Linked DNA regions of Homo sapiens. The protein of the gene in region 3 interacts with the protein of the main gene of each other region in a biochemical or structural test. Each region holds a gene or a part of one and is shown on either strand. Other genes may lie near its edges. The genes, in order: MCM5, ETAA1, ATRIP and TOPBP1.

The links.
Region 1: the proteins of ATRIP (region 3) and MCM5 form a complex in vitro, tested with the Homo sapiens proteins (one study listed by BioGRID).
Region 2: the proteins of ATRIP (region 3) and ETAA1 form a complex in vitro, tested with the Homo sapiens proteins (one study listed by BioGRID).
Region 4: the proteins of ATRIP (region 3) and TOPBP1 form a complex in vitro, tested with the Homo sapiens proteins (2 studies listed by BioGRID).

The regions. Positions count from the first base shown.
Region 1 is NC_000022.11:35,403,121-35,410,145, forward strand, and holds part of MCM5 (DNA replication licensing factor MCM5), read left to right. Parts: intron 1-86; coding exon 87-213; intron 214-293; coding exon 294-422; intron 423-3,432; coding exon 3,433-3,605; intron 3,606-5,287; coding exon 5,288-5,443; intron 5,444-7,025. UniProt on the Homo sapiens protein: Acts as a component of the MCM2-7 complex (MCM complex) which is the replicative helicase essential for 'once per cell cycle' DNA replication initiation and elongation in eukaryotic cells.
Region 2 is NC_000002.12:67,392,698-67,400,336, reverse strand, and holds the start of ETAA1 (ewing's tumor-associated antigen 1), read right to left. Parts: upstream 3,005-7,639; 5' UTR 2,889-3,004; coding exon 2,666-2,888; intron 2,007-2,665; exon of another isoform or gene 1,300-2,006; intron 1,169-1,299; coding exon 1,040-1,168; intron 788-1,039; coding exon 711-787; intron 1-710. UniProt on the Homo sapiens protein: Replication stress response protein that accumulates at DNA damage sites and promotes replication fork progression and integrity.
Region 3 is NC_000003.12:48,449,721-48,456,745, reverse strand, and holds part of ATRIP (ATR-interacting protein), read right to left. Parts: intron 6,710-7,025; coding exon 6,576-6,709; intron 6,254-6,575; exon of another isoform or gene 6,171-6,253; intron 5,018-6,170; coding exon 4,847-5,017; intron 2,447-4,846; coding exon 2,328-2,446; intron 1-2,327. UniProt on the Homo sapiens protein: Required for checkpoint signaling after DNA damage. Required for ATR expression, possibly by stabilizing the protein.
Region 4 is NC_000003.12:133,637,917-133,644,941, forward strand, and holds part of TOPBP1 (DNA topoisomerase 2-binding protein 1), read right to left. Parts: intron 6,448-7,025; coding exon 6,104-6,447; intron 5,457-6,103; coding exon 5,284-5,456; intron 2,255-5,283; coding exon 2,043-2,254; intron 247-2,042; coding exon 1-246. UniProt on the Homo sapiens protein: Scaffold protein that acts as a key protein-protein adapter in DNA replication and DNA repair. Composed of multiple BRCT domains, which specifically recognize and bind phosphorylated proteins, bringing proteins together into functional combinations.

The DNA.
Region 1 (7,025 bases), on a different chromosome or scaffold from region 3:
TTCAGGGGTGCAGGCACACCTCAGCCAGTGTTGGTTTCCTCTTCTTTGCACCCTTCCTGCCCCACCCTGCTATGTGCCCACTCCAGGGATGAACTCAAGCGGCATTACAACCTGGGGGAGTACTGGATTGAGGTGGAGATGGAGGATCTGGCCAGCTTTGATGAGGACCTGGCCGACTACTTGTACAAGCAGCCAGCCGAGCACCTGCAGCTGGTGAGTGGGACCCCATCCCTGAGCTTCCCAGGGCTGCTCTGCCCCAGTTACTAATAGCCTGTGCCCTTCCCTTTCTCCAGCTGGAGGAAGCTGCCAAGGAGGTAGCTGATGAGGTGACCCGGCCCCGGCCTTCTGGGGAGGAGGTGCTCCAGGACATCCAGGTCATGCTCAAGTCGGACGCCAGCCCTTCCAGCATTCGTAGCCTGAAGGTGGGTCGGAGGGCAGTGGCTGCTGCATGGTGCAGAGGGCTTTGGATGCAGCCAGACCTGAGTGCTAGCTGTGTGGCCTTGAGTGAGGCACTTGACCTTTCTGAACCTGTCTCCTCCTGGAGACAAAAGGATCGTTTGTTGTTTTTTGCTTTTTGTTATGAAAAATTACACACCCAAAAGCAGAGAGTAGTATAATGAATCCCATAAAGCTTCACCCAGATTTAATAATTAACATTTTGTGTTGTTTCCTATTTTGTCCTTTTTCTTTTTTGCTAAAGAATTTTAAAGTAAATTCATGCACAGTGGCTCATGCCTCTAATCTTAGCACTTTGGGAGGCCGAGGGAGGAAGATTGCTTGATACCGGGAGTTTGAGACCCTGGCTCTCCAAAAAACAAAACAAAAAAAAAACAAAAAAAACAAAGCTAGGTATGCTGGCATATGCCTATAGTCCAGGCTACTTGGAAGGCTGAAGTGGGAGGATCAAGGGGCCTAGGAATTTGAGGTTACAGTGAGCTCTGATTGTGCCTCTCAGCACTTTAGCCTGGGTGACAGAGCAAGACCCTGTCTCTAAAAATAAAAAATAAATTACAGACATGACACTTTATCCCGAAAAAAAAAAGTTTTCTTACATAGTCTCATTAGCACCTCAACTGAAACATCAAAGATCTCTTAGTATCATTGAATATACAGTCTAGATTCAGATTGACCAAATTACCTCACATGACTCTTACAGCTCGTGTGTCTCAGCCAGGACCAGGCATTGTACTGGATTGTTGTTTAAATCTCTTTTAATCCAGGACAGCTTCCTTTACTCTGGGTGTAAGTTCTTTCACAGATACATTATTGATTTGCTAAAGAAGCAGGAGCCATTATCCTGTAGAATGTGCTGCCTTTTAGATTTATCTGAAGGCCTCCTTGGGGTGGTTACAACATACCCCTTCCCCCCCGTGATTTTTGGAAGCTGGAAGTTAGATGCAAAGGCCTGACTGTGTTTCGATTTCACATACCGGGCAAGAACGCTTATGGGTGGTATTGGATCCCTCATTGCATCCCTCCATCCACTATGCTGAGACTGACCAGGTGCTAGGTTGAGGTGGTGATGGTCACTTTATTGTAATGATGCAGGCATGGAGTCTTGAATTCCGCCTCCCCAGCCTCGCTTCTGCTTCCCACAGCCTCTTCCTGCTTTCTTTGAGAGCCCCAGCAAAACTTCTGCTCATGTCTGGTTCTCTCGTTCAGCCGGAGGAGGGCATTGAGAAACGGAGACAAGGTGGAGAGAGATTGTCCCAGTCCTGTACACTAGTGGCTCAGGAGCTTTGTGAAGGGCAAGGGCTGGCCATAGGAAGGAGTGGATCGGCTGAGAATTTATGTTTTACTTTTTATTATGGATAATTCAAACATTAGAATATAAAGAGAATCGTATAACGAATCCTCTTGTACTCATCACCCAGCTTAATAATTAGCAACTAGAGGCCAATTTTTTTTTTTTTTTTTTTTTGAGATGGAGTTTTTGCTCTTGTTGCCCAGGCTGGAGTGCAGTGGCACGATCTCAGCTCACTGCAACTTCCGCCTCATGGGTTCAAGTGATTCTCCTGCCTCAGCCCCCCAAGTGGTTGGAATTACAGGCACACACCACCACGCCCGGCTAATTTTTAGTAGAGATGGGGTTTCACCATGTTGGCCAGGCTGGTCTCGAACTCCTGACCTCAGGTGATCCATAGATGCCAAATCTTGTTTCATCTGTGGCCCTGGAGTTCTTTTGAAACAAGTCCCATACATCATATAATTTGATCTGGAACTATTTCTCCATGTATCTCTAAAAGATGAATCTCTTTTTTTTTGAGACGGAGTTTGACTCTGTCGCCCAGGATGGAGTGCAGTGGCATGATCTCAGCTCACTGTAACCCCTGCTTCCCCGGTTCAAGCAATTCTCCGGCCTCAGCCTCCCGAGTAGCTGGGATTACAGGCATATGCCATCACACCTGGCTAATTTTTGTATTTTTAGTAGAGACGGGGATTCACCATGTTGGCCAGGCTGGTCTCGAACTCCCGATCTCAAGTGATCCGTCCGCCTCGGCCTTCCAAAGTGTCGGTATTACAGGCGTGATCCACTGCACCCAGCCTTTGAAGAGTCATTTTTAAAGGCATAGCTACAATAACATCACACTTAAAAATTAACATTACGGCCGGGCGCGGTGGCTCATGCCTGTAATCCCAGCATTTTGGGAGGCCGAGGCCAGTGAATTGCCTGAGGTCAAGAGTTCGAGACCAGCCTGGCCAACATAGTGAAACCCCGTCTCTACTAAAAATACAAAAAGTTAGCTGGACATGGTGGCAGTTACCTGTAATCCCAGCTACTTGGGAGGCTGAGGCAGGAGAATCGCTTGAACCCGGGAGGCGGAGGTTGCAGTAAGCCGAGATCCTGCCATTGCACTCCAGCCTTGGCGACACAGCAAGACTCTGTCTCAAAAAAAAAAAAAGAAAAAAGAAAAAATATTACTGCCTTATTGTCCGGTGTGGGAATAGTCATTAAGATGGGGAAACTGAGGCTCAAAGAGAAGTGACCCAGACAGAAGACCACACAGCAGGTTTTGACAGAACTTGAACTAGAATGTGGGCCCCTGCCTCCCAGGTTTGTTCTGTGTTGTACTCTACAGGTCCAAGGATGTCGCCATCAGAGCTGGGGTCAGGTCTCTCTCCTGGCACCTGCCACTTTGTAGTGAAATGTGCTTAGTGTATCTCTTGCCCTGCCACCTCCCCCCCCAATTGTGCTGCGAGGTCTTTAAAAGCAGGAGCTGTGCCTGAGGCTCCTCTGAACCCCAGGGTCCAGATAGCCTGGCACTGGGTGGATGCTCTGGAAGCATTTTTTGAGCGGAACAGAAGAGCTGTGGCCCTCCCTGCAGCTCTGTGCCCACCTCCTCCAGGCTCCTGCCCAGGATATTTACTGGCATATCTCAGATGCGTCCTGGCTCCCCTTAACCAACAAGCTTCCCGATGGCTCTATTACAGTCGGACATGATGTCACACCTGGTGAAGATCCCTGGCATCATCATCGCGGCCTCTGCGGTCCGTGCCAAGGCCACCCGCATCTCTATCCAGTGCCGCAGCTGCCGCAACACCCTCACCAACATTGCCATGCGCCCTGGCCTCGAGGGCTATGCCCTGCCCAGGAAGTGCAACACGTGAGTCTGTGGCCCAGAGGGACTGTGGGAGGTGACCTGAGTGAAGATCAGAAAGGATGAGAACAAGTAGCAAGCACTGCCTGCAGCTGCTTCTAGAGATCCACTGGGATGGGCTGGGCAGGGGTGTGCCCTTAGGATTGGCACAGATCTGATGCCCTGTGGCTCTGAGACACCATGAACAGGGTCCCTCTACATTGGTGACTTCTGTCTCACCAGGATACCCAGACAGCGTTGTAGGGAACCCAGGGTTGGGAGGGAAAAGCAGTCCAGGGTAATGAGTCTACTTGGAATCTTCTGAAGCAAACTATGGTTTGCTCACTAGGCCAGATCTAGCCTGCTGACCCTATGGCCCAGGAACACGTTCGTTCATTTAAGTATTGCCCACAGCTGGTTTCGCACTACAAAGGCAGGGTATGTGGCCTCTTGGCTGGCAGAACCTGGAATGCACATCCTCCGGCCCTTTCTAGAAAATGTTTGCTGCCCCCAGTCTGAAGGAACCCCACCCTCTTCACTGGCTGCTCTTTCTTGGCTCCTTCGCTGGTGCCTCCTCAGCTTCCCATCCACCTGTGGCACAGCTGCCTCATTCCATGCTGTTGACATCTCTCACTTGGAGAGGCACGCTACCTCCTCCCTGATCCCCCGCGTCCACCCTCCACCCCCTCAGTCTGTTTTCCACCCAGCAGCCAGGTGTCCCTTGACACTCAGGTGGTCCAGTCATTTACTTCTTAGTCAAGTCCTGCACAGCCCACCACGATCTGCTCCTGGCTTCCCCAGGCCTCGCTGCCCCTCCTCTCTCCAGGCCCGGCCTCACTGCCTCCTTCCTGTTTCTGGAATACACTGACTACCCCCAGTCTCACTGCCTTTGACCTTGCTGTTTCCTCTACTGGGAGTGCTGTTCCTCAAGCTACCATAGTCTGTGTCCTCACTTCTTCAGGCTTCTCTTCACATGTCCCCTTACCAGGGGCATCTTGCCCAACCCTTCATCTTCAGTTTGGTGTGCACGTACCTCGTCTCTCCCACACCTGCCTACTTTTTTACTTTTCTTCACAGCATGTAGCTGTCACTCTTTAATATGATTGTTTGCTTGTATGTCTTTTCAGCCTCCCTTGATAGGAACTTAGGCTCCACAAGAGCAGGGACCTTTTTGTTCAGTGCTGTGCCCCCTGCACCTGGAATAGTGTCAGACACATAGTAGGTTTTGCTATGATGTTTACTTCTTTATGTTGCTATAATATCTATTGAATAATGACATAATTACCTAGGGATACGTAGAGGCTTAGACCCTCAGAATGGTCTAGAACTGCCTAGAATCCCACTGGAAAAGATCTTGGGATTTGAGTGGGGCTTTAGTAAGAGAATTGATGAACTAGCTCTTCACCCATGAGGACACCATGATCCTGCAAGAAGACCGAGTGTGACCTGTCTGCCTCCTCTCAGCAAGTTAATGGAAGGACCCAGCCTCAAGCAGTTCCCTTGACTCTTAATCCAGTGCTAGGTCCGTCAGTGTTGCCTTCCTTTCTTACCTCCAGGCAGCGTTGCCTGCCTGGCTTATCTCCAGCTTATTCTGGAGACCCCCATAAATTGCCGCTGGCAACGTCTCCTTGCTGGCTCCTGGGATGAATGAGCCCTGCCTTTGGATTCTCCAGGTAGCTTTGGTGACTCTTTTCCCTTACCTTGTACAGAGATCAGGCTGGGCGCCCCAAATGCCCATTGGACCCGTACTTCATCATGCCCGACAAATGCAAATGCGTGGACTTCCAGACCCTGAAGCTGCAGGAGCTGCCTGATGCAGTCCCCCACGGGGAGATGCCCAGACACATGCAGCTCTACTGCGACAGGTGAGGCAGACGGGCTGGGAGGTGGGCATCTACGACGGTGGATGTCCCAGCTGTGGCCCTAACCCGAGTGTTGGGAGTGGGTCATCTGGAGCAGGGTGAGTAGGGTGGAGAAGGTGGCCAGTTGCAGAGCACCTGCTCTGTGCCTAATGCTTCCATAAGTTCCTCTCATCTCGTCTTTCCATAATCTGCAGGGGCATGTCAGCCCCATTTTGCAGATGAGGAAATGTAACTTGGAGAGATTAAATGACTTCCTGTGTGGAGGAGAGCCGGGCTTTCAGCCTATGTGCATTGCTTTCCAAAGTCTGTGTTCTTCTTAGGATAAGAGGCCCAGGATGCACAGCTAGATAACCAATAGCTGGCAAAGCCTCTTCCCAGCCTGACACCCCACCTCCTACCCCAGGCTTTCTTTTTTTTTTTGAGACGGAGTCTGGCTCTGTAGCCCAGGCTGGAGTGCAGTGGCGCGATCTCGGCTCACTGCAAGCTCCACCTCCTGGGTTAATGCCATTCTCCGGCCTCAGCCTCCCGAGTAGCTGGGACTACAGGCGCCCTCCACCATGCCCAGCTAATTTTTTGTATTTTTTAGTAGAGATGAGGTTTCACCTTGTTAGCCAGGATGGTCTCGATCTCCTGACCTCATGATCCGCCCGCCTTGGCCTCCCAGAGTGCGTGGATTACAGGCGTGAGCTACTGCGCCCAGCGTACCCCAGGCTTTCTGTTAAGATCCTGCTGAACAGCCACGGTGGCTCATGCCTGTAATCCCAGCACTTGGAGCGGCTGAGACAGGAGGATTGCTTGAGGCCAGGAGTTCAAGACCAGCCTGGGCAACATACTGAGACCCTGTATCTAAAAAAAAAAAATTTATTAGCTGGGTGTTGGGGCAGACACCTATAATCCCAGCTACTTGGGAGGCTGAGGTGGGAGAATCACTTGACCCCAGAAGGTTGAGGTTGCAGTGAGCTGTGATTACACCACTCCACTCTAGCCTGGGTGACAGAGCGAGACCCTGTCTCAAAAAGGAAAACAAAAAAGATTCTACTGAGGGGGAGAGGGTACTGAGCTTGGGCCCCTCATAGTAACCTGGGTGGAAGGTTTTGAGATCTTTGATTAGGGTTCTAACCTGGGCTTGCATATCCTGAAATTGCATGCAGATGTTCTGAGGAGAGCGGATCTGTAGCTTCTGTTAACTTCATTAGTGGCAACAGAGTATGTAGGGGTCAGGCTCTTGCTCCCTGGGCAAGTTATGTGACTTTGTCAAGCTTCAGTTTCCTCATCAGTAAAATGGGGATAAGGACAGTCCTTAATCTCTCAGAGGGCTGCTTGAAAATGCATGTGGTGTTTAGCACAATTCCTTCATGCAGATTACGTAATCAGGATGTATGATTTTCCAAGCAGTTCATGAATCCTGAAAACTTACGAAGTGGGTATGGGAAGAGGGGAGTTGGAGGCTCATGGAGTGACGGTGATGGTCTTTTCTGGAGCTGTGATGCCTGATGGTATAAAGCACTTCTATGTCTGCTGCCTCACCTGACTCCACAACATGAGAGGCAGGCCACTTCGTCATCCCCCTAGGCTCAGAGGTGCA
Region 2 (7,639 bases), on a different chromosome or scaffold from region 3:
AGAAAAGAAAAAAAAGCTTTGGAGATGGTTCTATTACAGTAACAACCTTAACGTAACCTTACAATTATAGCACTCTATAGTTTACAAAGAATTTTTATCTAGTTTAATTCTCATAATGATCCAATGAAGACAGCAAGAGCAACACAATAATTCTAGTTCATGGCTGAATGAACTGAAGTGGTGGGAGTTTAAATAACTTGCACTGGGTCACACAGCATAGGAGGTTGAATGAGGACTAAATTTGAATTCAGTGCTCTCCACTTTTGTAAGTGTTTCTTGATAATCTTATAAGGAAATGAGTATTAATAGTTTCAATGGGGAAATGTTACAGACAGGAAGTACCAATCACAAAACAATCATAGAAGTATAAACTTTTTTCACTGCCTTATTCTATTATTTTAGCAACTTGAAAAATGATGTCGTATGTTGTTAAGCACAACATTACAGATAAACACAATGCCCTAGTCAAAAATTACTCTAAAAAATTAAAACAAGATATATACTTAAGAAAATATCTTGTATTTTATATTATATTCCTTTTTTCAAAATATGTATTTCAAAAGTAGAAAAGGCAAAACAGTAATCTTTGCTGCCTTATTTTTGGAAAAAAGAATTATAATAGACAATACTTTTCATTTAAAGAAACTACAAAAACTTAGTGGCACATTCTTCACTGTTTTAAAACAAACTGTAAAACTAGTGATATTTACCTGAGGAGCAATACGATTAACAATATGTGAAATCTCATCACTATCTGTGGTGTAAATCTGTTTTTTTCTTCCTTTACCTAAAGAAACAAAGACATTTCTATAAATTTTAAACAAAAAACCCTCCATTTTAAAAAACAGCTGTCACTTCTTAGAAAGTAATTTTATTTAGTGCAGCTTAGAGGATTATGTGTTTACATCACATACTTATACAGATAAAATCATATAACATTCTCAGAGGTTCCCGATGCTATTATCTGACTAGAATTCTAGTTAAATCTGAATCATTTATCAAATATTTACTCACATAAAAAATGTTAATAATTAATTACCTAACTGCTTTGTCAATGGAGAATTCTGATCCCAAAAGATATCATTCTGTCCATCTGGATCATTAGGAGAACTGAAGGAAGATGACAGTGAGTCCATTTTCAGCGCTCTCTTTGGTGTTTCATACCTTTCTATATAAAATATGAGTAAAATAACAATTGTTGCATTTTAAAGCATTACCTTACTTCGTAAGACCCCAAGGTCAAATAGCTGAGACTAACTTTTATAGTCCAAGATAATTTTTTTTCCCAGAGATAATTACCTGAACCGTAACAGAAATGCTTGTTTCACATAAAAATCCACGCGGCACTTCGCAAACTTCACATTGTAAATAGCAAACACTTCTAGATAATCCAGAAGCTTTATGAATGCATAATACAATACTGTATAACCTAAGTCATTCTATTTATTACCATTGAGTCTTGGAGGCTTTGGGGAACCATCTGTAATTTATAGGTACATTCAAAAATCCAAAGTAACCCAACAGAAACCTAAATATGTTTAGCCCCCTTTCACCAACTCTATCTAATCTACATTAATTGCCATTCTTCAAAAACCATTAGTGATCCAATGCTTGGGAATTTTTGTCTAGAATCACTTTCAAATTTTTATAAAGATTTTTGTTCATTCCCAAATTGCTTTATAGGAGTATTATTAAAGACATGTAAGGTGGCCGGGCGCGGTGGCTGTAATCCCAGCACTTTGGGAGGCCGAGGCGGGTGGATCACGAGGTCAGGAAATCGAGACCATCCTGGCTAACACGGTGAAACCCCTGTCTCTACCAAAAATACAAAAAATTAGCCGGGCGAGGTGGCACACGCCTGTAGTCCCAGCTACTTGGGAGGCTGAGGCAGGAGAATCGCTTGAACCCGGGAGGCGGAGGTTGCAGTGAGCCGAGATTGTGCTACTGCACTGCAGCCTGGGCGACAGGGCGAGATTCTTTCCCAAAAGAAAAAAGACACGTAAGGTATAAAAAAAAAAAAAAAAAAAAAAGCACTATTTCAAGAACATGCTCCAGAATAAAGGCTTTTGTATGAGTTTCAGTTCCAACTAAGATTTACTAGAAGTCTTTTAAAAAGTAACACCTAAAACTAATCGAGACGAAAGAGATCCTTAGTATCTTATTTGGAGGGATGTTACACACAGGAACTTCCGGTTTATTCACAATGAGGTGAGACATCTACCAGGCTTTGAGACAAACTTTAACTTTTCCTATGAACTCTTCTCTAAAGCAGGTCACAGGGAAAAAAAGGGTTTAAAGAGAAATAACTTCTCCGGGCAAAAACTGAGGTTAGCGGGCCTATCAGCTGTTTCTTCTCACTCCACCACTGCTGCTGACTGGAGGAGCAGCCTGGAAAGCAGCCGCCCTCCCGCAAACAGGTAAACCACATTACCTATTCCTGTGGCGGAGGCAAATGGATGGTCAAACCTAACGGGGTAGTGCTGAAGTTCGGGGACAAAAGCCCATCGGGGAGTGGTATAGGATTATTTTTGGACTCTCGAGGGGTGAATCCCAGAGACAGAATACACGCTCCAGACTCCACCCCCACCCCAGATTTCCCTGTTGCAAGCTGGGATGTGGGGATGCGGCGCCGAAGCCAAGGCAGGCCGCGCTGCCGACGTCTCACCCTCGGGGTTACTTTTACTGCACAGGGCGGCGGTCGGAGGCTGCTCTCGCTGCCGCACTGGCCCGGGAGGCCCCTCTCTAGCCCCGCAGGGCCACGAACCGCGGGCCGATCTCAGCCGCCTCCTCCCTGGCTCGACCACCGAGCCGCATTCCTCCGCCGCCACTGTTTTGTGCGGCGTTTTCTTCGGGCTAGGGCTGTCATCATGTTTCCTTCGCCGACTCATTGCCTATGGCCCGCCTCCACCAGCCGCTTCTTCTTTCACATTTTGCAAAGGGATGAGTAGGGCAACAGCACTACAAACCGCACCCCGCACCAACGGCAGCCGCCATTTTGGTCGGTGGGGCGCGCGCAAGAGGCGGCCGCTGATTGGCTGGGTCCGGGAGAGGGGCGGAACTGTTAAGGTGCCGAGGGCGCGCGCACTTCCGCAGCCGGGACAGGAGCCTGCTCTGGAGGAGTGTCTAGGCTCAAAATCCTCCAGACTGGTGGGGGTTGTTCGGGTAGTAGTCAGGTCCGCGTAAACTGAGAGTGGGAGCTTGTGAGTTGGAAAGATTGAATACACTAGCAACTTTTTATTGAATTTACAACGAAAATTGCACGTTAGTCAAATTCAGATTATTGAGAGTCTTCGAATTTCTCAAGAAGAGGAAATACAGTTAATTTTTCATAGATGCTATGTGCATAGAAAAATCCAAAAGAAAGTAGAAAAAATTACTAAATTAATTTAAGAGTTGCTGGATACAAAGTCAATATTCAAAGATCAATGTGTTTCAATAGATTAGCAACAGATATAAAATTGAAGTTTTAAAGAGATACTATTTATAATAGTGCATGAGATAGCAAGTAACTAGGAATAAGTTAAAGATTGTCCTTCCTACAAAGAGAACTATAAAACATTTTTGAGGCCGGGCGCCATGGCTCAAGCCTGTAATCTCAGCACTTTGGGAGGCCGAGGCAGGCGGATCACGAGGTCAGGAGTTCAAGACCAGCCTGACCAGCATGGTGAAACCCCGTCTCTACTAAAAATACAAAAAATTAGCCGGGCATGGTGGTGCGTGCCTGTAGTCCCGGCTACTGGGGAGGCCAAGGCAGGAGAATTGCTTGAACCTGGGAGGCGGAGGTTGCAATGAGCCGAGATTGCGCCACTGCACTTGCAGTGAGCAGAGATCGCGCATCTGCATTCCAGCCTGGGCGACAGAGGGGGACTTCGTGTAAAATAAGTAAATACATACATACATACATACATACAAAAATTAGCCAGGCGTGGTGGCGGGTGCCTGTAATCCCAGCTACTTGGGAGCTGAGGCAGAGAATTGCTTGAACCTGGGAGGTGGAGGTTGCAGTGAGCCGAGATTGCGCCACTGCACTCCAGCCTGGGCAACAGAGCAAGACTCCGTCTCAAAAAAAAAAAAAATTTTTTTTTTGAAAGAAAACGAAGACCTAAATAAATGGTTACACTATGTTCATGGGTTGTGAGACTCAATATTGTTACAATGTCAGCTATTTCCAAACTGACCTATAGATTCAACATAAATACATATGAAGGCCCAGTGTGTGACTGTGTGTGTGTAACATGGTAAGTTTTTTCTAAAATTTATATGAAAATGCAAGGGACCAAAAATATCAATAAACTCTTGAAGATCTCTCGAAGAATAATGAGGGTTGATATCTACCAGGTATCAAGACTTATATGGTAATTAAGACAGTGTTATGATGGTGTCAGGATAGACAAAGATGAAAGAAACAGGATAGCACAGAAACAGACTTCCATATAAATGAACACGATTTAAGACAAAGGTGACCCTTCTGAGCAATGGTAAAAGGACTTTTGAAATTAAATAGTGCTTGGTCTATTTGATGTTCATGTAGAAAAAGAAAGAAACATGACCTTTACCTCAAACTTTATCCCCAAATCAGGTGCATATATATTCATTATAAATTTAATTGTAGAAGATAAAATAACATTTTAGAAGGTATAAATTGTCTTCATGACAGAACGCATTTGAAATAAAACAAAGGTCACCAGGCATAATTATAAATGTGACTACACAAAATTGATAATTTGAGAACTTCTGTCCATTCAAAAACAACATTAAAGAGAAGGAAGGGCAAGGCACAAATTGGGAGAAAATATTTATAAGACATATTTAAGGGCCTATATATAGGTTATATGAAGAACTGATACAAATCACTAAGGAAATGATTGACTGTCAAAACCAAAAGTGGATGAGACCCTTGAGCAGGATCTTCACAAGAGAAAATATTATCAACAAACTTATGGAAAAATCAGATTCATTTTTAATCAGGAAAATGCAAATGAAAACCATATCAGAATGGCTAAAGTTAAAAAGACTGACAATATAGGTATTGAGGCAGTAAACCAATGGAAGCTGTCACGTACTGCTGGTGAGAGTATAATTTGGCACAACCACTTTGGAAACCAGTTTTTGATCTAGCAATCCCACTCTGAGGAATATTCTCTGTTTAAATGCATGGACTTGTTCATCAAGATACAGTTTATAAAAATGCTTTGGTGGGATGCAGTGGCTTATGCCTGTAATCCTAGCACTTTGAGAAGCCGAGGCAGGTGGACTGCTTGAGCCCAGGAGTTTGAGACCAGCCTGGGCAACATGGCGAAAACCCATCTCTACAAAAAATACAAAAAATTAGCTGGGCATTTTGGCGCATGGCTGTAGTCCCAGCTACTAGGAAGGAGAATCACTTGAGCCCAGAAGTTGACTTGCTGTGAGTCATGATTGTGCCACTGCATTCCAGCCTGGGCAACAGAAAAAAAAAAGAAAAAACAAAGAAGAAGAAAAATGCTTTTAGCAGTAAAATTCAATTCAAAATTACTTCATACTGTAAGTGGACCAAATGCTTTCCAACAGTAGAATGATAAATATATTGAACTATATTCACACAACAAAATAGCAATGAAAATGAAAACTACAACTCTGTGCGACAACATGGATAAATCTGACAAACATAAAGTTGAGCAAAAAAAAGCTAGACCTCCCAACCCTCCTCCATAATGTTAAATAAATCCCATATAAATTCCATCAGGCAAAGTTCTACTATATTGTATAGGGATGTAAGCTTTAGTGTTAAAATGATAAAGAAAAATCTAGGAATGATTACCATAAAGGTCAGGATAATAGTTACCTTCGGGAGGGGGAAGGGACAGTGATTAGAAGTGGACAGAGGGAGGAGAGAATTTCATGTATTTATTGGCTTTGTTTATTTTCATGTTCTAGTTGTTAATTACAAAAGTATTTGCTTTGTGGTAATCTACTGAGCTGTACATTTTGTTCATTTTCTACACACATGTTATATTTATCAATTAAAATGTTTAAAATGTTAATGTAAGGCAAAGATCTTAGTTCCTACTGAGGAGCTGATATATTTCTTCTATCTTGTAAACTATTCTGTTTTTACTCTTTAATTTTGCTGACAGAAATCCTAGAACTAAATTTGAGATTCAGGGCTAGCAGTTATATAAACCATATAAACCGTTGTGAATAGATAATTCCATTATTTTTCCTCAGTGTTTGACCTTCTACTAATACTTTTTCTTTCCATGATTGTTTTTTACCTACATGTATTTAAACCATTGTTTAGTTTTATTTATTTATAACCGGATAAGACTGGAATACAAGTGATATTACATCTTTTAAAATTCAAATTAATTACTTGAACCTTCACTTGTATAAATTAGCAGGAATATTACTATTTCTCTCAGAGATCTCTCCTACCTCTCAAATGACCAAAAATCCTAGAAGCATTAAAAAAAATGTAAAAAGAACTTAATTTACCAAATAAATATCCAACTCACATTTAGAAAGTAATTAAGGAAGTTTAAAGAATTTAGTGATGTTTATAAGAGAAATAACCATGTAGTAATCCTTTAAAGCATATTAATGCTGCAAATAAAATAACAGTGAATACTTTACCATAACTCCAAATTCTATAGTGCCCAAGTAACCATTGCTGAAATGAACAACTTGAGCCTAAAGTACAGACGTGTTGTCTTAACACACCTAGGATGGCTGTAACCTGTAATCATTATGGGGTAGGAAATTATAGTAAATTTTAACTTGAAAATTACTTACTTTACATAATCTGTTACATTTCTAAGTGTACTTCAAATTAAATTTACTTCCTGACTATAGCTCCTGAAATAAGTATAACACAATTAACTCCTTAATAAAATGTTTTTAATGTGAAACAAAAGTCTTACAGATGTTTGAATGCAATATGATTCATAGCTCAGCATTTCTAGGCATTTGAATAATTTATACATATAAGTAAGGTTTACTGCAACTAAAAACTGTAATAAACCAAAGTGAAACTCTTGCTTGTTTCACTTACAGGGATTATTTATAAACTTGACAATAATTATTAAGGCAAAAATTGTGACACTGAAGGTCTGAGTTACTAAGGAGCTTCTCTGCCAGTGATTGCCTCCTCACTTACATTACAACGATGGGTCAATGCTACTGATCAATGGCTAACTGTGAGCAGTCTTCCTTTCAAGAAAAAAAAATCCATAATTATGTGAATTATGTTTGTGTTTTATATACAGAGCTCCAGCTCCAAATCTGTGAGAGTGCATTTGGCAGAATCTGAACAAGCAACACAATGATTAGAGGGTTTTTGTTTTTTTGTTTGTTTTTAACAGTTTTGTTACAATGTTTCCACCCCAAAATGTACCTGGGTAAGTGCTGGGCCCATTTTTCCTTATTCCTGACATAGCTGCAATTGTATTAGCTAGAACCACCTATTATGCCTAGCTGCTCCATCAGGAGCCTCTGCTGCCTAGGTGACCATGTCTGGCCAGACGGGCCCAATCGGGTAAAAATGACTGGACTAGACATGGGCACCTGATTTTAGGAACCAGTCCATAGCCAGCTTCTCCACCTCTGACTGACACAAAAAGATGCATTGAGACAATCCTATTCTTTCTTGGAGATTTGAACT
Region 3 (7,025 bases):
TGGAGTACAGTAGCATGATCATAGCTCACTGCAGCCTTGACCTCCTGGGCTCAAGCAATCCACCCATCTGTAATCCCAGCCTCCTGAGTAGCTGGGATTACAGGCACACATCAACATGGCCAGCTAATTTTTTTTTTTTTTTTTTGGTGAGACAGGGTCTCACTCTGTTGCCCATGCTGGAGCCCAGTGGCACAATTACGGCTCACTGCAGCCTCCACCTCTTGGGCTTAGTGATCTTCCCACCTCATCCTTCTGAGTAGCACAGGGACTACAGATGTGCAACCACCACATCTGGCTAACTTTTTATTCTTTCTAGAGATAGAGTTATTTCTAGAGATAGAGTTTCACCATGTTGCCTAGGCTAGTCCTGAACTCGTGGGCTCAAATGATCTGCCCACCTCAGCTTCCCAAAATGCTGGGATTACAGGCGTGAGCCACTGGGGCCAGTAATTTTATTTTTTTTTTAAGTAGCAATGGGGTTTTGCTATGTTGCCCAGGCTGGTCTCGAACTGCTAGCCTTAAGCAATCTTCCTGCCTTAGCCTCCTGTGTAGCTGGGATTGCCTCTGTAGCTACCATGCCTGGTGCAAAACATCTTTTCAATGTGGAACAAACTATTTTTTTTTCTGGAATGGAGTCTTGTTCTGTTGCCCAGGCTGGAGTGCAGTGGTGTGATCCTGGCTCACTGCAACCTCTGCCTCCAGGTTTGAGTGATTCTCCTGCCTCAGCCTCCCAAATAGCTGGGATTACAGGCGCATGCCACCATGCCCAGCTAATTTTTATATTTTCAGTAGAGACAGGGTTTCATCATGTTGGCCAGGTTGGTCTTGAACTACTGACCTCAAGTGATCTGCCCGCCTCATCCTCCCAAAGTGTTGGGATTACAGGTGTGAGCCACTGCACCCAGCCAATGTGGAACAAACGATTTTTTAATAGTCACAAGACTTCCAGGCTGGGCACAGTGGCTCACCCTTGTAATCCCAACAATTTGGGAGGCTGAGGTGGGTGGATCACCTGAAGTCAGGAGTTCGAGAGCAGCTTGGCCAACATGGTGAAATCCCATCTCTACTTAAAAAAAAAATACAAAAAAACTAGCCTGGTGTGGTGGTATGTGCCTGTAATCCCAGCTACTTGGGAGGCTGAGACAGGAGAATCACTTGAACCCGGGAGGTGGAGGTTGCAGTGAGCTGAGATCATGTGACTACACTCCAGCCTGGACAACAGAGTGAGACTCTGTCTCAAAAAAAAAAGACTTCCAATAGAATGCAAAGACTTTAAATAGAAAAAGGGCTATCAAAATAAATATCATAATTTTGATAAACCTACTAGGTATGTTGAAAACTGAGCAACTTAGTGCCAATGTCTTTATGGTAGAGAAGCAGTATTAACTCTCTGATCTGATCATATAATGCTGAGGTCTTTCTGTTACTGATGTGTGAAGAGGATCCCCTCAGTTCTCTTGTCTTATGTGGACAATGCAAGGCATGGAGAGTTCAGTTTCACACACTGCCCATTATGAACAAAGGCGGTAGAAAGTTCAAAACCAGAAGATGCCCTGACTGACACTGTTCAAATTTCCAGGCTGCGCCAGGCACAGTGGCTCATGCTTGTAATCCCAGTAGTTTGGGAGGCCCAGGCTGGCAAATCATTTGAGTCCAGGAGTTTGAGACGAGCCTGGCCAACATGGTGAAACTCCGTCTCTACTAAAAATACAAAAATTAGCTGGGCGTGGTGGTGTGTGCCTGTAGTCCCAGCTACTCAGGAGGCTGAAGGAGGAGAATTGCTTGAACCCAGGAGGCGGAGGTTGCAGTGAGCCGAGATTGTACCACTGTACTCCAGCCTGGGTGACAGAGCGAGACTCTGTCTCAAAAAAAAAAGAAAAAAAAAACAAGTTGAGCACATCTGACCACAAAGGATGGGGCTGTTGGACAAGGGTCCCCAGAAAGCAAATGAGAAAAAAATATTCCAAGTAGCTGGAACTAAAATACACCCATGCTTGCAACAAAATCAGTTAAACAAATTACATAAAAGTAGAGACTAGCCCACCCCCAAAATTTGGAGATCATTTTTCCAGGTCTTTCTAGTCCTGAAGAATTATGTTTATAAAGTGCCATACAGAGGCAGCATTTCTAGAGTATAGGCCTTTATGCTGTGATGTCTCAAACCATGCAAGCTTCATCTAAACCACCTCTGAATCCTTCAGGAAAAGAGGATCTCTGCCCAGGTGGAGGGGTCTAAATGGCCTTCATTTAGGACCAGCCTGACACTGTTATGCAGATTTTTTACTAAATAATGCAAAACTGAACTATCCCTCCAGCACCATCATTACCTGACATGGGAAACAGAGGGAGCAGCCAGTTTATTTGCTCGTTCACTGGTCTGGAGCTTTGTCCTTAATTCATTCATCTCTGCATCTTTAAACTGGAGTTCAGACTGCAATGATTGGAGCTGGAAGGCAAAAGAAACATGCTTGTAGTGGTCCCATCATATACACAAAAATATCTCTGGGCTTCAAAATCACAAGCCAGTAAAAGACAAACAATGAAAAATACATATGAAAGTCTGCTGTGACATAAATGTCCTAAAATATTAAACATTAGCTTTCTTTCTGAAAGACAATATGGTACTCTAAAAAGATACTGGACTCTATTGTAAGGGTAGTTTGTGAGGGTTTAAATACCAGCCCTGGCCGGGTGTGGTGGTTCAGGCCTGTAATCCTAAGCACTTTGGGAGGTTGAGGCGGGAGGATCATTTGAGCCCAGGAGTTCGAGACCAGCCTGGGCAAAATAGCAAGATCTTGCCTCTACAAAAAATTTAAAAAATAAAAAAAAGAATTAAATACCAGCCCACCATTTATTTAATGTCTTTGAATCCTAACTTATTTGTAACATAAAACACCTGTCTTCATGATAGTTGGGAGGATTAAGTAGAATGATGAGTGTAAAATACCCAGCATAGAGCTTGGTAAGGTGCCCTATGTCAGCAGTAACATATTGACCTTTATTAACGAACGCACTGGTGCACAATTCCAGGTCTTCCTCAAAGTTTGGGCAGAGTAGTTGGAATAGTTTACCAAGACACTGTGCAGTATAGAGAGACCTGCTGCTCTGGCCTGCAGTTGCTACAGCCAACAGTAACTGCCATCATTCCCCAAGCACACTCTGCGCCAGGCCCAGCACCAGACACAGTAAGTGCAAGAATGTGTGAGTCTCCCAACAACCTTTCTGGTTATGTCTTGGAACAGATAAGGGAAATGAGCCAGGGAGCTTAAGTTATTACCTTGAGGTCACTGCTTATGTGTGATGAAGCCTGGATTCAAATTCAGGTTTGTCTGACCGCAAATTCCTTGCTCTTCATCACTTATACAGAAAGTTAACTATTGCGGTTAATGATGGGCACAGGTAAGTGCTTAAAGTTTGCTAAGTTTGCTGAATGAAACAATGAGAATAAGATCCCATGTCCTTGAGATTGAAGCATGAGGAGGTGCTGAGGGAAAGTTGTAGTAGGTACTGGATACCTACTGTTTTTCCTTCCAGAATAGCATTTTCCTTTCCCTGAGAAACAGGCTGGGCATTGTGGCTCACGCCTGTAATCTCAGCACTTTGGAAGGCCAAGGTGGGAGGACTGCATGAGCCCAGGAGCTTGAGAACGGCTTGGAGAATACAGCAAAACCCTGTCTGTACCAAAATTTAAAAATTAGCTTTGCCTGGTGGTGTGTGCCTATAGTTCCAGCTACCTGGGAGGCTGAGATGGGAGGATTGCTTGAGCCTGGGAGGTCAAGGCTGCAGTGAGCTGTGATTGCACCACTGCACTCCAGCCTGGGCAAGAGAGTGAAACCCTGGACCCTGTCTCAAAAAAAAAAAAAAAAAAAAAAAAATTCAATAATTTCCCTACCTCTGACTATTTTATTAGAATGGGAGCTGTCATTTTTTTGCTTTTGGTTGCTTTTGGTTATAGCAATTGGCCAGGGACAGACAACTGACTCAAGTTAAACCAATCAGAGCCTTTCTCAGAATTTTAAAACTTGAGATGAGGGAGCCTAAGTCTTTTTTTGAAACAGGGTCTCGCTCTATTGCCCAGGCTGGAGTACAATGGCATGATCATGGCTTACTGCAGCCTCAACCTCCTGGGCTCAAGCAATTCTCCCACCTCAGCCTCCTGAGTAGCTGGGACTACAGGTGCACACCACCATGCCTGGATAATTTTGTTCATTTTTTCTTTTTCTTTTTTGTGGAGATGAGGTCTCACTAGTTGCCCAGGCTGGTCTCGAACTCCTGGCTCAAGTAATCCTCTCACCTCAGCCTCCCAAAGTGCTGGATTATAGGTGTGAGCCACTGCATGTGGCCCTAAGTCTTAATTCTGCTCTGTATTTATAAAATATGAGCCCAGGAGCTTCTGGAGAACACACCCTCTACCATAAGTATAGAGCCTGTTTATAGCATAGAGAATAAAAATGTCCTGGCAAGATTTAAGTCATTTAAGGTCCCAGCATACCCCGGTTCTTCCCAGACTTGGATATGGAAGCCAATACGTTTCCTTTTAGCCTAAGCCAGGTCAGTTGAGTTTCTGATCTAGCAAAAGAGCCTTAATGTAAACCTGTTTCTAGAAATGCTAAGCTAGTTATTTACTCCTGCCAAGACCAACTACCACAGCAAAATAGAGTTTCATCTAAATCCCTTTCCAAAATATATCCAGACCCTGGAAGAAGAGTGGATGGCAATGAGATGATAGCAGAAAGTATTTAAGACAAACAAGTGTTGAAATCTCCCTGGAAGATTTACAGGCAACCCTGGTCAAAGGAACTCAGTGGGCAGGCAAAGCTGGTGCAAAACAAATGCTCTGGGTCACCTTTTTGGAGAATTCCTTTTCCTTGTCACTGAGTGCTTGGGTTTTCTCTTGCTCAAGAAGAAAATGTGATCTTCTCTGTTCCTCTAGAACGGATTCCGTCTGATGTAGTGAGTCTCGCAAAATTTTAATTTCTCCATTCTTAATGAGAACTTCTTCTTCCATTACTTTCATCTGTAAATCCCAAATTAATCTCGTGAAAACTTTGTAAGAGAAAACTACTTAGGTACTTTGTTTTAACATGTAGTTGGGGAGATGGAGAAAGCACAGGAAAAACAGACAAATGAGTACTCAAAATATATCCACAGCAACCAGATGTCACCATGGTCTGCTAGGCCTGTTCATGGGACAGCTGATATTCATCAAGATAGCTTAAGCATACACTTGCCACTCATGCATGCAGATTCTTTTTGCCAGGGAGGGGGATGGGGTTGCTTAGGCTGGAATGCTGTGGCACAATCATAGCTCAATGTAACCTTGAACTCCTGGGCTCAAGTGATCCTCTCGCCTCAACCTCTTGAGTAGCTAGGACTACAAAGCATGTGCCACTAGCCTGGCCAATTTTCACTTTTATCTGTAGAGACAGGGTCTCATTGTATTGCCCAGGCTGGTCTTGAACTCTTGGGTTCAAGCGATTCTCTCACCTTGGCCTCCCAAAGTGCTGGGATTACAGGCATGAGCCACCTTGCCTGACCAGATTCCTTTTTTTTTTTGAGACGGAGTCTTGCTATTGTCGCCTAGGCTGGAGTGCAATGGCACGATCTCGGCTCACTGCAACCTTCACCTCCCAGGTTCCAGCAATTCTCCTGCCTCAGCCTCCCGAGTAGCTGAGATTACAGGTGCCCGCCACCATGCCTAGCTAATTTTTGTATTTTTAGTAGAGACGGGTTTTCACCATGTTGGCCAGGCTGGTCTTGAACTCCTGACCTCAGGTGATCCACTGGCCTCGGCCTACCAAAGTGCTGGGATTACAGGTGTGAGCCACCGCGCCTGGCCGGATTCTTTAGGCTCTAAGAGGCATTAACGATCTGGGTCGCTGGGTGTGGTAGCTCATGCCTGTAATCCCAACACTTTGGGAGGCTGAGGCCAGGAGTTTGAGACCAGCCTGGCCAACATGGTGAAACTCCGTCTCTACTAAAAATACAAGAATTAGCTGGGCGTCGTGGTGCACACCTGTAGTCCCAGCTACTCTGGAAGCTAAGGCATGTGAATCGCTTAAAACCAGGAGGCAGAGGTTGAAGTGAGCCAAGATTGTGTCACTGTACTCCAGCCTGGATGACAGACTCCATCTCCAAAAAAAAAAAAAAAAAAAATCTGGGTCACATACCTTGCACAACTAAAATTCCACATATTCCTGGTTTTCTTAGGGACCTACAGATGGTGATATGAAGTGTCTGCTTTCTTGCAAAGCTGCTAATGAAAATAGCAACCATTATGAAGTTGTATTATTCACATGAAGATACATGCTATAAATTCATCTTAGTACCCTAACAGTTTGTATCTCTTTTTGGATCTGGTATACAGTGTTTTTCTTCTTGCCTTTGGCATTAGGAATCTCACAATTTAGTTTCTTTCAGCCTAAACTTTCTGGTTTTCTTTCCCTAGTCTTTTCCCATGTCATAGGGATGAATCTAGACACTTGTTTTACAACTTTTGTATATTTTACTGTACAATGCTTTTAAACACGTAAGTGAATGAATTAGCTACAAAAACCACAAGTTAAGTCACTTACCTTTTCTTTAAGTTCTTTGTATTGTGCCTGAAGTACCTCTAATTCGAAATTATCTTTAATTGGAACAGTTTCTCTGTTTTTCCCTGAAGGATTTTTTGACATGCCATCTAATAATCTGTGGACCTTATGATCACCTGTAAAAAATAGTTCCATATACATTTCAGGACCCAATATTTTCCCACTTTTGCCAGAAAATGCTGAAAATACCCACTTTTTTTTTTTTTTTCTTTTTTGAGATAGGGTCTTGCTCTGTTACCCAGGTTGGAGTGCAGTGGTGTGATCACTGCTTACTGCCACCTTGACCTCCTGGGTTCAAGTGATCCTCCTGCCTTAGCCTCCTGTGTAGCTGGGACTACAGGTGTGTGCCACCATGCCTGGCTTTTTTTTTTTTTTTTTTTTTGGATTTTAGTAGAGATGGCGTTTCACCATGTTAGCCAGGCTGGTCTTGAT
Region 4 (7,025 bases), about 85 Mb from region 3:
GGAATTTTGATGGTGTATCCAGGTGTAACGAGGGCTCCTTCTGAAGTGGTTGTCCTACTGCTGGGGAGGCTGCGACCTGTCTGGCATGTTGTGAGACCACAGCACGGAAAGCTTTACTCTGAAAGCGGTTCATATCTAAAGGTGTAACGACGGTTTTTCTGTGAGTTTGCAGGCGTGTGCCAGGATGCTCTGCAGTATCTGAATTTAGATTGATTCCATTTGTTATTTCTGTTTCCAAACTTCGTTCTAGAGATTTAAAATGAAAAGAAACAAATATGAGCCACTAATGCCCACTTTTTCCCGGTACACAAGAAGTAATATTTTATACTGTTTTCTTTCCTTTCTTTCTTGCATAACTCCTGGGCTCAAGAGATCCATCTACCTCGGCATCCTAATCTGTTAGTTTTCATGTCAATTCTCAGGTACACTTTAAATCACAAAATTATATACCTACTTTCCAAGAAACAAACCAGATTATGCATTAAATATATGTTGAGTTAGACAAGCACATTAACTGAAAAAATAATAATAGATTTCCTGTTTCATCTTGCTATGTCTCAATAAGCCTATTTGCCAAAAATTGTTATCAGTGAATGTCTTTCTAGTCAATGACAGAGTAAAAAGAAAAATCTCAATTACAGGTACTCAGAGTTAACTACAGTCTAGTTTTGGAAAGTCCTTAATCAAATTTTAATATGACCTGAACATCACTTAGCCTCAGTCATAAAATTACCAGTCTGTCTGGCAAAATAAGTAATGACTCTGAGAGGTATTCCCAAGCTGCTGATATGTCCCTGAAGTTTGCCCATGGATGCTATTATCTTACAAGAGAGGGTACTGTATTCTTCCACCTATGCCTTCCACCTTTTTTCAACATTTAACAAAAAACCTTATTAGATAGCTACTCCATGCCAGGCCTAGTGTTAGACATGGGAAATACAGAATTCACAAGACATGCATGTTCACTGCCTTTCTGGAACTTTAAATTTAGCAGGAAGACACAAAATAAACAACCATTATAACACTGAGGTAAGAGATAAAAGGGATGATACAGAGTGTCATGGTGAAACAAAAAACATTATACCAAGACAAAGGCCATCCTTGGTGAGTCAAGAATGCTTCCCAAGACAGTGTGGCGATTCCTCAAAGATCTAGAACTAGAAATACCATTTGACCCAGCGATCCCATTACTGGGTATATACCCAAAGGATTACAAATCATGCTACTATAAAGACACATGTACACATATGTTTATTGCAGCACTATTCACAATAGCAAAGACTTGGAACCAACCCAAATGTCTATCAATGATAGACTGGATTAAGAAAATGTGGCACATATACACCATGGAATACTATGCAGCCAGAAAAAAGGATGAATTCATGTCCTTTGTCGGGACATGGATGAAGCTGGAAACCATCATTCTGAGGAAACTATCACAAGGACAGAAAACCAAACACCGCATGTTCTCACTCATAGATGGGAATTGAACAGACACAGGGCAGGGAACATCACACACCGGGGCCTGTCGTAGGATGGGGGGATGGGGGAGGGATAGTATTAGGAGAAATACCTAATGTAAATGACGAATTAATGGGTGCAGCAAACCAACATGACACATGTATACATATGTAACAAACCCGCATATTGTGCACATGTACCCCAGAACTTAAAGTGTAATAATAATTAAAAAGAAAAAATGAAAGGCTTCCCAGGGAAAGTGGTATCTTAGCTGAGAACTGAAAGATAAGCAGGAAGAGCAGGCAACTGTGAGGTGGTCTACAGGAAACATGCAGAAGCCCAAAGATAAGAGGAGAGATAGCATGTTAATTATATAGTGTGTTACTATGAGCCATAGAAAGAATCAACAGTAAATAGGAGCCAAGCTTACATCTGTAGACTTCGAACACTGAGACCCTCACTGCACCCAATGTGAAAAGCAAAAATCAATGACCCTTCCTAAACACAAGCATTGGCACATTTATATCCCAGAAACCATCTAGTTGTAAATATATATAAAAGAACAGAATAAAAGTATTAACCTTCTTTAGTTGAATTTTCAATCAGAAAATGGCTTTCGTCTGCTCTCTTTCCCGTTCTAGCAGTCTCCAACAGCCAAGCTATAGTAACGGCAGGTAAATTCCACTTCTTTGCAGCTTCATATTTAGAGCCACCACGTTCTTTCAGTATAAGATGAGTACTGGCAAACATGCCTTTCTTTGCATTGGATTTGCGAACAAAGTATTCTTGAACACTGAAATTTATGTTTAAAGAAGTGGAAATGGTCACATATACAATTAACCCGCAAAACTAACAAAATTTCCAACACAACAGTGTGGTTAGAGATCATGTAAGTATAAAAAAAAATACTGATTAAAAGTTGGTTTACTCTATCTGAAATTAAGCTAATCCCCTTACAAATGCTTACTCTAGGGTAAAAATGTATTGCTGTAACAAACTTTTTATAAAAACATAATTAGACATGCAAAGAACAGACAGCAAAAATCCTTTTGAGACAGGGTCTTGCTATGTTGTCCAGACTGGAGTGCAGTGGCACAATCACAGCTCACTGCAACCTCCGCCTCCCAGGCTCAAGCCATCCTCCCACCTCAGCCTCCCCAGTACCTAAGACTACAGGTGTACACCACCACACCTGGCTAATTTTTGTATTTTTTGTAGAGATGGGGTTTCACAATGTTGCCTAGCCTGGTCTCGAACTCCTGAGCTCAAGTGATCCTCCTGCCTCAGCCTCCTAAAGTTGGGATTACAGGCGTGAACCACCTCACACAGCCAAAATTACCTCCTTAATTAGTTATCACCCCCACACCTTGTCCTTTCCTCCCAAAAGAAGGCACAGAAAAAATGACAGGAGCAAAGTGTATAAATAACATTATTATTATTTTTTAACCTACTACAACTTTCCAAAGCATTTCTACATATTATCTCATTTGATCCTCTCAATATTTAAGTATAGACATGGGAAAAAATACAGAGAAATTAAGTGCCTCAAGATCATAGGATATTAAACACAGAGAATACGGGGCAGAAAAAGAAGTCTACGACTTGAGATTGAACAGAATTCCGTGATTTCTTTTATGACTTCTGGGTTTTATGTTCTAGTTCCCAACTTTTCAGATTTTTAAATTTCCCATGTTTCCTAGCACTTTTTTTTTCTATGTTTTGTGTTTATCTTAGTACTTTTATAATTTCATTTTTTACATTTAACCCACCAATCCATTCAGTACTTATTTAGATATGAGATACTGCTCCAACTTTAATGAATCCTATTTATTGAATAAGCCATGTCTTCCTTATATATATTTGAAATGTCACTTGTATCGTAAATTCCTTTTTACATTTGGGTCTCCTGCTACATTTGCTGTCCATTAATTAAACTTTCTGCTACACGTAACCACACTGTTATTTAGTGAAGTTTCACAAAATATATATTTGTTTGTTTGTTTTCTGAGACAGGGTCTTGCTCTGTCCTCCAGGCTAGAGTACAGTGGCGCCACTGTGACTCACTGCAGCCTTGACCTCCCAGGCTCAAACAATCCTCCCACCTCAGCCTCCCAAATAACTGAGACTACAGATTTATGCTACATTGCCTGGCTCATTTTTAAAATTTTTTGTAAAGACAGGGTCTCAGTATATTGTCCAGGCTGGTGTTGAACTTGGCCTCCTGCCACGGCCTCTCAAAGTGCTAGGATTACAGGCATGAACCACCAGACCTGGCCACAAAATATATTTTAATAACTGTTAGGGCTAGTCCCAATTATTCTATTTCAGAATTTGCATGACTTTCCTGCTGAGTACAGCTTTAGCTGTATCCAGTGGAGTCTGTCATCATGTATGTTATTATCTTCCACAATTTCAGTTTTAAAAGAATTTTATTATTTCATATAATTCAAACAGAAAACAGCAAAAAAAGAAATATACAGCTATACGAATTATTATAAGGTGAAACCCTTAAGTCCACCACCCAGGTCAGAAGACAGAATCTTGCTAACTACCCCAGAACCTCTCCAACATGCCATATAAACCCCCTTCCCTCCCTTCTTAATAGTAGCCACTATTTGGGCTTTTTTTTGGAGACAGGATCTCATTTTGTTGCCCTGGCTGGAGTATAGTTGTGTGATCATAGCTCACTGCAGCCCTGGTCTCCTGGGCTCAAGTAATCCTCCTGCCTTAGCCTCCCGAGTAGCTGGGACCATAGGCACATGCCACCATGCCTGGCTCATTTTTTTTTATTATTTTTTAAATAGAGACGAGGTCTCACTATGTTGTACAGGCTGGTCTTGAACTCCTGAGCTCAAGCAATCTTTTAGCCTCCCGAGTGCTGGGATTACAGGTGTGAGCCACTGTGCTTGGCCTATTTGGATACTTATAGTAATCACTTCTTTACTTTTCTATAATCAAATAATGGCAACTTTAAAGACTACATTTAGGCTTTTGCTTTTTCAAGTCTTTTAGCTTATAGGTTCCTACCTTCTTTTCCATGCCCTTAATATATATTCATTGAAGACACTGGATCATTTATGCCAGAGTTGTACTAAAGTCTGGGTCTTGCTGATTATATCACTGTAGTATAGTTTAACGTGTTATTCTGCTGTTTGCATTTCCTATAAATTGGGAATTGGATCTAGAAGCATCATCAGATTGAGGTTTGATTATTTTGGCAAGACTACTTCAAAGTGGTGGTGTATTCTTTGTAAGAAGGCACATCATGTCTTGTCCCTTTATTGTGTGATCGACTATTGATGTTCAATGCCTAGATTCTTTCATTCATTAGGGGTTACAGTCTTATCATTCCTTATTTATTTATTTGTTTGTTGAAACATCTTTATAAAGGGAAACTTTGTCGTATCCACTATCATGTTACCCTGATGCAAACTGCACAGGAAATGCAAGGTAATTCCTTGATCCTTTCCTTTTGTCAGCTTTCAAAGTAATGGACTGGTTCTCTAGCATCTTTCAAAGATGACCAATTACCTTACTTTATTTGGTGTCATTATGAAGTCACAACTTAAACACTATTTCATGTGTTTGGACCCACTGCAGTTATTACCTCTAATGATACCTAAGTTTTCATCTTTGGACAACAGAGGCACTTTTTTTTTTTAAGGCTAGTCAAGTGAAGCAGTGGGAGTGGAGAAGGAACCACATAACACTCATAAATATAATAAAGACACCCAACCAAATTCTAATTTGAATGCTCTCCAAGAAGTCAAAATAAATAAAAAGATACACCAATACAACAGGTGCATTAAAAATATTACATACCTTGCTCCAAGGAGGTTTGCTAGGAATGTTAAAGACTCTTTTTCTGCTCCAGCACACTGGCTAAATGAAATAACACAATCCTCTAAAGGAGTCATTCCTGTCATTACTGGAACTGGTGTGAAGAGAGGATTCGACTTTGGATCAAACAAAGTCTGATAGTCTATGCAAGTAACCTTTTAAAAACAAAAGAAATAGTAAAGCCAACCTGAAATAAGCAACCAGTGGTTAACACTGGTTCAGGTACAGAAGCAATAATTTAGTTTTGATAAGAAGAAATTTTACTTTAATACAAACTTGTGTATGCTCATTCTCAATACATTTCATATCATAATGTTAGAGTATATATATACATACACACATATACATACATCGACTAATTACATTAGGCTATTAAAATCGGTAAGATCTATTATTAGAGTTACTGAATGTTGCTTTAAATTTCATTCCTTCTAATGTATTAGTTTATACTATTTTTCTCATAATTCTTGGAATGTTAAAAAAAAAAAAATCAACAGTGAAATTACCAGTGATGCTTTGGTTATGAGAAAACAAGACAAATAGTATGAGATGACCCTAGAGTGACCTCCTAAGAAGGAATGTTGCTGCTGTGGCCCTGGGAAACAGTAATCTCTACTGTATCGGGATTAGGCCAAGAAGCTTGCACATTTAATTTTGAATTTCCCTTGCTAAAAGCAAAATCAAGAGTGTTCAAGTCCAAGCATTGATTTACTGTAACTGAACTGTCTAAGAAATAAACATTAACCTTCTTGGCATTCAGATATCCTTCGATACTTTATTTCAACCACTAGTGTTGTCTTACCAGCCATGTATTTGTAACAACTTCTCCCACAGTGGCTTCCACTTCACACCCCAGCAGAGGAACCACAGCATAATCCGCAACAGTTCTGCTCAGAAGGGACATGATTTTCCCAGCATTTTCTTTTATGATGTTTGCGATGTTAGATTCATTTTCATTACTAAAACCCAAAACAAGGAAACTCTTTTGGCTAAATAAGCCTTCTTCAGTAATTGTAGAAACATCAGGGACACAATGACTGACAGAAGACTGGTTTTCTTCTTGCAAAGAAATGTGAGTAGAATCATTCAAGGGCTCAGCATGAGTAGAATCATTAAAGGGCCTGGCTTCAGACGTCTTAGCCTCAACTGAAAGAGAAAAGTAAATGTTTTCTAACCAACAATTTACCTTATACAGTTTACTTCCTAGCAAGGATATTAACGTAACATGGAATCTGATAATTTTGACCATACTTACAAAACTAAAGCTTACGTGTATAATAAAGGGATATGGATTCACCCCGTCTTCGGGGTTACCAAGAGTCCTTATCAGTATTACCATCATCCATTGGGAAGGACAAGAGCAATCATGTTAGTTCTAGGTATTCCTAGTATAATGGAAACTTGAATTAGTTTAAAATTATATAGCTCCAACAGGACTTAGTTCCAAAACTGGTTTAGATGATTCACCATAAAATTAAGAAACTATCATTAAGAAAAAAATTAACAAGTCTAAATGGTATAACTGTCAAGTCCTTAACATGGAACATGTTAACATGGAAATAACTATAAGGAAGTGGCTGGCAAATCCTAAAATATTTATTGTCTACTCCTTTAGAGAAAAAGTTTGCCCTGCTATGTGATTCCAACAAGGCTGGAAGCTATCCAAGAATCACTCTTTCATTTATATAAGCACTGTGACTAAGTGCTTTACAAATGCATGTAAT